Homo sapiens: one gene and its partner. The protein of the gene in region 2 interacts with the protein of the main gene of each other region in a pairwise test. Each region holds a gene or a part of one and is shown on either strand. Other genes may lie near its edges.

Evidence for each region. The genes of interacting proteins can lie anywhere in the genome.
Region 1: the proteins of LST1 (region 2) and G2E3 interact in a two-hybrid assay, tested with the Homo sapiens proteins (one large-scale study listed by IntAct).

Annotation. Positions count from the first base shown.
Region 1 is NC_000014.9:30,607,658-30,611,157, reverse strand, and holds part of G2E3 (G2/M phase-specific E3 ubiquitin-protein ligase), read right to left. Parts: intron 3,271-3,500; coding exon 3,089-3,270; intron 1-3,088. UniProt on the Homo sapiens protein: E3 ubiquitin-protein ligase which accepts ubiquitin from an E2 ubiquitin-conjugating enzyme in the form of a thioester and then directly transfers the ubiquitin to targeted substrates. Essential in early embryonic development to prevent apoptotic death.
Region 2 is NC_000006.12:31,585,098-31,589,076, reverse strand, and holds LST1 (leukocyte-specific transcript 1 protein), read right to left. Parts: upstream 2,801-3,979; 5' UTR 2,762-2,800; intron 2,379-2,761; exon of another isoform or gene 2,270-2,378; intron 1,878-2,269; 5' UTR 1,778-1,877; coding exon 1,759-1,777; intron 1,437-1,758; coding exon 1,344-1,436; intron 1,134-1,343; coding exon 1,111-1,133; intron 581-1,110; coding exon of another isoform or gene 560-580; coding exon 401-559; 3' UTR 168-400; downstream 1-167. Other genes in the region: NCR3 (natural cytotoxicity triggering receptor 3 isoform a precursor), read left to right, coding at 1-10. UniProt on the Homo sapiens protein: Possible role in modulating immune responses. Induces morphological changes including production of filopodia and microspikes when overexpressed in a variety of cell types and may be involved in dendritic cell maturation.

The DNA.
Region 1 (3,500 bases), on a different chromosome or scaffold from region 2:
CAACATGTCAAACTTCCCTGCTCTCAACTTCCACTTTTCTCCTTTAAGAGCAAGCTTCAACCATGTGGATGCAAACAATAATGCTAAGTGTTACACGATAATGAGAGGAAGGAACTCAAGTCCTTAGACGGTTTTGTAAATCACAACTCTATCTCGAAAACAGAGGGCCATCTGTATAAAGGGCCAGATAGCATTTTATGCTTTTCAAACTATATGGTATCTGTTGCAGCTACTCAACTCTGCCACTGTAGCGTGAAAGCAGTCAGATCAGTAGCAAATGGGCATGGCTGCATTCCAATGTAACTATTTACCAAACAGGCAACAAGCCAGAACGTGACTTACAGGCCATTTTTTGCCAACTCTTACCCTAAAATCTAGACAATGGATTTTACAGAACAGTAAACATCTGCCTTGTTTGAGCCACTGTCTTTCTGGGTCTATGAGATACAGAAGTTTAGCCTAAAACCTAACTTGTATATACTCCAACCCTTATCCATCTCCTTTTATTCTGTTGTATGTATGCATGTATGTATTTATGTATACATTTATTTATTTGGGATGGAGTCTCACTCTGTTGCCCATGCTGGAGTGCAGTGGCATGATCCCGGCTCACTGCCACCTCTGCCTCCCGGGCTCAAGCGAGCCTTTCAAGCAGCTGGGACTATAGGCGCGCGCCACCACACCTGGCTAATTTTTTTGTATTTTTAGTAAAGATGGGGTTTCACCATGTTGGCCAGGCTGGTCTCGAACTGCTGACCCCGGTGATCCACCCACCTGTTCTCCCAAAGTGTTGGGATTACAGGCGTGACCCACTGCGCCCGGCCATATTCTGTTTTATTTAGCATTATAATACATTTTACTACGTGATGGCATATTACATTTGTTGTTTATCTTCTGTGTTCTCTCTTAATGTAAATTCCAAGAAGGCAGATACTTTGCTTCACTACTCTATCTTTAGTAACAAAACAGTACAGAATACATAGTATTTCTTAAATAAATGAACAAACACTGGATAAAAAGTACAGAAACTGGAGTAGATAAAGCCATGAAGAGAGGTGAAGGTCTTAAATGCCCTAATGAAGAGCTTCAACTTCGTTCAACAGGCAATGAGAAGCCACTGGGGGATTCCTGAGGAAGAAAGCAATATGGTCAAAACTGTACTTTTGGAAGAATCATCCCAAATAAGAATATTAGAACAACATTCTAATTGTCTAAGCCTAGGGAAAATTTGAGTTTGGTAAAATAGGCACACTAGAAACAGGAAGGAAAGGTTGACAATAAGTCAGTCTTAGAGGCAGGTGACTTGACATATAACTGGAAAATGGAGGAGTATGAAAATGACTCTCCAAGACAGCTTGGAAGTAAGAAGTCTCTTGGAAAGAAAAGGCAAACAGGTAAAAACACAAAAAAGCCCCACAAAAAACAATCAAACAAAAAATTCTGGGAAAAATACTATTTTTATCTTAAACATGTTAGACTCAATGTGCTAGCAAGACCCAGGTCTTATCTGTATATAAAAGTCCGGGGGCTCAAAAATACAGGTCTGTAAATCATTCAGAAAGATTACAGGAGAGAAGAAGCTCTCCAAATAATAAAGAATGATGACTGTTAAGACAACACTGAAAAATGCTAAGTTTCAGGGGTAAGAAGAAGTAAGAAGCATTAAAGAAGAGAGAATCATCAGAAGTAGGAGGAAGTACAATATTAAATAAAATATTGCAGAGAAATTCTAAGTGGTAATTGCAGAAGTCACAGCAGATGAAAAATTAGAAAAGGCCTTTGGACATGGATATTTAGCTCCCTGGATATAAACTATGAACTAGCTAACTTGAGACTGGTGGTAGGGACAGAAGCCTGATTACAAGAAATAAATAGGAAATACGAAGTAGAGACAATGAAGCTTAAATATACTTTTTTTTTAGTAAAGAGGGCACAAAAAGAAAAACGAAGAATTAAAGGGTCAATTTAAAACATGATGTTAGGATAAGCAGTCTTAGGGCAAATAAACAGAATTGTTGTAATACACTGTAGCAACTCACACTTCAATAGTGCTTACTGTGTGATTTAGAAACTGAGGTTTAGTAAGATTAATATGCCCAAAGTGACACAACATATAGTAGTTATAAGAGTTGGCATTCAAAGTAAAATCTGACTTCCAAGCCTGTGCTTTTTTTTTGAGACAGTGTCTCCCTCTGTTGCCCAGGTTGGAGTGCAGTGGTGTGAGCTCAGCTCACTGTAACCTCCATCTGCCGGATTCAAATTATTCTTGTGACTCAGCCTCCAGAGTAGCTGGGATTACAGGCACATGCCACCACGCCTGGCTAAGGCCTATGCTTTTAATCATTAAACAACACTGCCTGTTAATTGAGACAATGGATAGAATATGCTTAAGTAGGAGGGAGGTTAAGGAAGAAAAGTTAAATGGCTTGCATTGTCTCAGTTTTTAAAGCAGTAACATGTTGGCAATGACACTTATATGGCATTATGATAAATGAGTGTTTGCACATGTGACATGTTTAGTACAGGTCCCATTATAAGTGCTGAATAAATGAACTATTTTTAGGCGGACGCATTAAGTCCTCCCCGATCCCTACCACTTGTTTCCCTTTGGAAGAAATTCAGCCTAGTCTTTCTCTCCATCTATCATTCATACCTCCCTATAGAAGGAAGGAAAAGTATTCTAACTGGTAAGCCAAATCCTTCCTCTCTTCAGACCCATCGGCCTCCATCAAAGTGCACTTTCATCTGCTTTCTAGCTTGCAATAGGGAATCTGCCTCACGTTGTCTCTAGCAAGGCAGGCAAATCCATGTATTTCTGAGGAGTATTCACAAGCCATGGTGAACACAGACCAAAATCACATTATCCAACTGGTTTTACCAACATTAAACGTGGCACTTTAATCTCCAGCCATCTGACTTTTAAAACTATCTTTTAACTGGTTCAGAACTCCACTGGTAAACAGAAATATATGTTTACAATCCCTAACTCCTTCATAGATAATACTATTATTTTATTGCAGATCAGTCATTTACATTAAAAGATACCTAGAATGTAGTGTGCATTTTAATAAACAGATACATTGCTTACCCTGATTATAATCTGTGCCACATCAAAGTCTGAAACATCATCTAAAATTGGCTGGGTATTTTCTGGTCCATAAACAAGGCAGTTAAACAAGGTTTTAGAAAAGAAACCAGGTGAAGGACCACCGTGAACTAAAGAAATGGCAAGCATTTTGCCAGCTTCATAGTAAAGATTCTCTTTCAGAGCTGTAAATACAGATGAAAATATATCAAATACACTTCTATTATTATAAGATAACCATCATTTTTTATATTAAAAATTAGTCCAAAAATCTAAGCATTAGATAAATATAATTCTTAGAAGCTATCATTATGTAGAAAATATAGATCTTACCTAAAATATAAAAAAAGACACATTTTTCTGAATATAAAGTAAAAATCTATTGTAGAAAACATAAAACACAATAAACCTACCA
Region 2 (3,979 bases):
AGGAGGCTGAGCCTGATTGTCCTGAGAAATGGGAAGGATCAGATATGACTCCTCCTTGGCAACTGCCCTTTCCTGCCAGGCCCACACATACCCTCTTCTGGCTGTTAGGGGAGCTTGGGTCCCTGAACACTGTCATTCACCCAATAAATTACTATTTGACCCCAGAGTGGGTGGAAGGGTGAGCCATGTGTTTTTTTTATTTTAATTTTTAAAAAATTTAAAAAATTCCCTATTCAAAGGTCAAAAAGCCACATAAGTTTTGATGATGATCAATTTGAACGGAGGCTCGAGATGGACTGAGAGGACTGAGACACAGAAGTGGGGGGACCATGGTTTTTACTGGCTGGACCACAGGGGGACCCTGTCCACCCGCCTGGGTTGAGGAAGGTGTCTGGGGTGCTCAGGTGGGTTTGTTCTCAGCAATGCAGGCATAGTCAGCTCTTGGATCCTCCTTGGTGCCTCTCTTGTCTCTGCCCCTGAGGTCAGGTCCCTCACTGCTGGGCACTGGCAGCCTCTGCAGAGATGCATAGTGGAGTTCCTGCTCTGAGGAGCCCTGGGCCTGGGACCAGGACAGAAGGTGCTGATGGGAGGCGATGCCGTCAGATCCTTCCCTGTGAGTTCTGCTCCCACCTCCAGCCTTTCTTACTTCTCTCCCTCTCTCTCTCTCTCTCTCCCTCTCTCTCTCTCTCTCTCTCTCTCTCTTTTTTCTTTGGAGACAGAGTCCCACTATGTTGTCCAGGATTGTCTTCAACCCCTGAGCTCAAGCTATCTTCCTGCCTCAGCCTTGCGATAGCTGGAATGACAGACGTGAGCCACTGTGCCTGGTTCTGGAGCCTCTCTCTCTCTCTCTCTTTCATTGCTCTTCTCTTTGTGTCTCTCTCACTCTCATTTTCTCCCTGTCTCTCCTATCCTCTGTCTCACTTTTTCTCTTGGTTTCTGTCTCATTTTCTCTTTCTCTTTTGCCTCGATTTTCTCTGCCTCTCTCATGCTCCTACTTTCTCTCTCCTTGTCTCCCGTCCCCAACCCTCCTCTCAGCGCTCAGCCATGCTTCTCCCCACTCACCCACTCAGGATCTCTCTTGCCCTCCCCCTTCCCTGTCCCCAGACTCACCCAGCTCCTCTCCAGCCTCTTTACTGGAAGAAAAGAAGAAGCTCAACACAGCCCACCCTTTGTGCTTCTCCCGGGCCCTCCCGGGCTCCCCCCACCAGCAGGCGTGGACTCCCCTGTTGGCTTCCCAGTGGCTCCAGGGCCAGGCAGTGTTCTGGGAAAGCAGTGGGAAAGCGTGTGGGGGTGGGGGCACAGGGGGCACTGCTGCAGGGGGAGGGAGGGAGTGCAGCGCTCACCTCTTCGATGCAGCCAACACAGGCAGGCGGACAGAAGGACCACTGCCAGAAGCAGGAGCCCGCCCAGCCCCAGGCCCCCGTAGATACATATATCTTCAGGGAAGAGGGCTCAAGGTTAGGAAGCCCATTCCTTCTCCAGCGTACCCCAGCCTCCTGGTTGGTTGCAGCTTTCTCAGATTCCCTCTCCAACAGTTTTAGAGGCAGAAAAATATACCCTCAGAGCTTCTCCATCCCAGACCTTAATACCTCACCTCTTACCAGGTTTCTGGGCCTCCCGTGAGGTCCCTTTCCCTCCTGTACCAGCTGTCCCCAGAGGCCTGTCCACCTAGTCATGAGCTGCATACATCACTGTTCCCCATCACTTCCTAAGCTCCCAGGACTCTCTCTATGCAGATGCAAGAGACACTTTACTTACCATCATTCCGCGATAACATTAGGTCAGGGATCAGGGACTGGCCTGGAGGTCAGGAACTCTAGTCCTTGCTCTTTTAGGCGAAATGATCAGGGGCTGGTGACTTGCCTCAAGTTCCTCATCTGTGAAGTGAGGGGCCCTCTGTTATAATCGTTCCCAGGCTGGGGAGCCTCCCTTATGTGCCAACCCTGAGCTGGGCACTTTCCATTCCTCACTGCTAATCCCCAGAACATAGGGTATCATGGTGCCCGTTGCCCAAGTAAAGACCCGAGATTCAAGCCTGGACTTTACTAGGTCACCCATCCCAGAAAGGTGGAGCTGGGGTTTAAGGCCAGCTCTGCCCAACTCCAGAGCCCAGCCCTTTCCTCTGCCCTGGGCTGACCACGTGGTTTGGAGGGGACTTTTCAGCCCTGGATGGTTCTAGGTGCTGGTAAGGGGATGATGGAGGGGAAGGAGCCTGGGCCTGGGTGGGTGTGGGCACTGGGGGGAAGAAGGGAGGGTGATATCAGCACACCCAGCAGGTGGGCTGCTCCCTGAGCCGCAGAGCAGCGCGGGAGTGTGGGGGCCCCCTTGGCTGGTGTGGAGAGCTGCTTCCCACAGGCAGATGCTGCTAGGGCTGAAGTGGGGCATGGAGGAGTATCTGGGGCCCCATAACTTCCCCTCAGGCACTTCCTCCCCTCCAACCACTGGTTCCTGTTTGAGGGTGAAGAGGGGGCCGTTCTCTTCACCCCAGAGCCAGATATACTGACTAGGGTCTGGAAACTGGGACCCTTCTGGGTTTAAGAGGAATTCTGGGGGGTGGGGAGCAGAAGTGCAGGTGGAGGCCATAAGGGCCGTGGGCACAGAAATGAATTGTCTTTAATTTCTTTGGGGAGCAGAGACTCAGAGGATTCCTCGACGGCCCAGGGAAACTCAAACCCATACTCTCCCTCCCCTCATCTTAGCTTCACCCCACTCTGGGGTGTGACCATCCTTCCACCAAGGTCCCTGCCCATTCCCAGCTTACCCAGAGCTTGTGGCCTGCAGGATGGACAGACTCCAAACTGGCCAGTGCTGTCTGGCTGAAGAGAAGTGTTGCCACCTCAGACATTCCTGCCCCTCCTCTGGCTTTAACTTCTCCCCCAGCCTGGGTTCCTCCCCAGCATTGTTAGGAGAGGAAGTTCGGCTCCAGGGTTAGGGTTACAACATCTTTCTTTTCAAACTTCTGGGCCTGTAGCTAGGGCCATAATCTGCCTCAGCTCCAGTCATTTCACTGATCCTGCCACTAGTCAGCAAACACCCACCACCTTCAGGTGTCTTCCTTGATTAACTCTTCTCTATTACCTCTTACACTGCATCTGTTGAGACCTCTTGATCTTGGCATATGTCTGTGGACACATGTACCCTGCTCCAGTTCAGACTGGGAGCTCTGGCATATTTGGTGTTCTGGTGACCCACTTGGTGTTCTGCAGCTCTATGCAGCAGGCTGCTTGGCTGTCTGATTAACAAACATGAGAGTTAAAGGCAGCCATACTAGATCTACATGAGCCCTGTGGATAGATCAAGGACAGAAAGTTGGTGACAAGTTGGTGACAGGAAAGGAGGTGTGGGCAATACAGGTGGACTTCCTGTAGGAGGCAGCATTCTGGCATTGAACACAGAACTAAGTAAAGGCAGCGGCCTGAGGCTCTCTGGAGAGACCTGGGTGAAGGCTTCTTAGTGGCACTGTGATGGAGAAGGAGATGGGTGCTGGAGGATTGCACACCCACTCCTTGAGGAGGGTGAAGACTGGGGAGCGCCTGTAAGGCAAGGGGTGAGGAGGAGATGTGGTGCCTGGGTGGGTCCATATTAATTTGCGTTTCCCCTTCCAAATTCAAGAACCTTCTACTTCCTCCCCCACCCTTCTCCCCATCCTCCATGTTCCCCATGCTGAATAATATTCAGGGTTTTTTGTTTGTTTGTTTTGTTTTTTTTACATTTTATTATTAAAAAGTGCAAACATAGGGTGAAATGAGAATAATTGTACAGTGAACATATTCTTACCACCTAGATGCTACTATTAACATTTTTTGTTTTGTTTTGTTTTTGAGATGGGGTCTCACTCTGTCACTCAGCCTGAAGTGCAGTGGTGAAATCATAGCTCACTGCAGCCTTGAATTCCTGGGCTCAGAGGTCCTCCCACCTTAGCCTTCTGAGTAGCTAGGACTACAGACACCAGCTACCACATGAGGCTTTGTAGAAATGG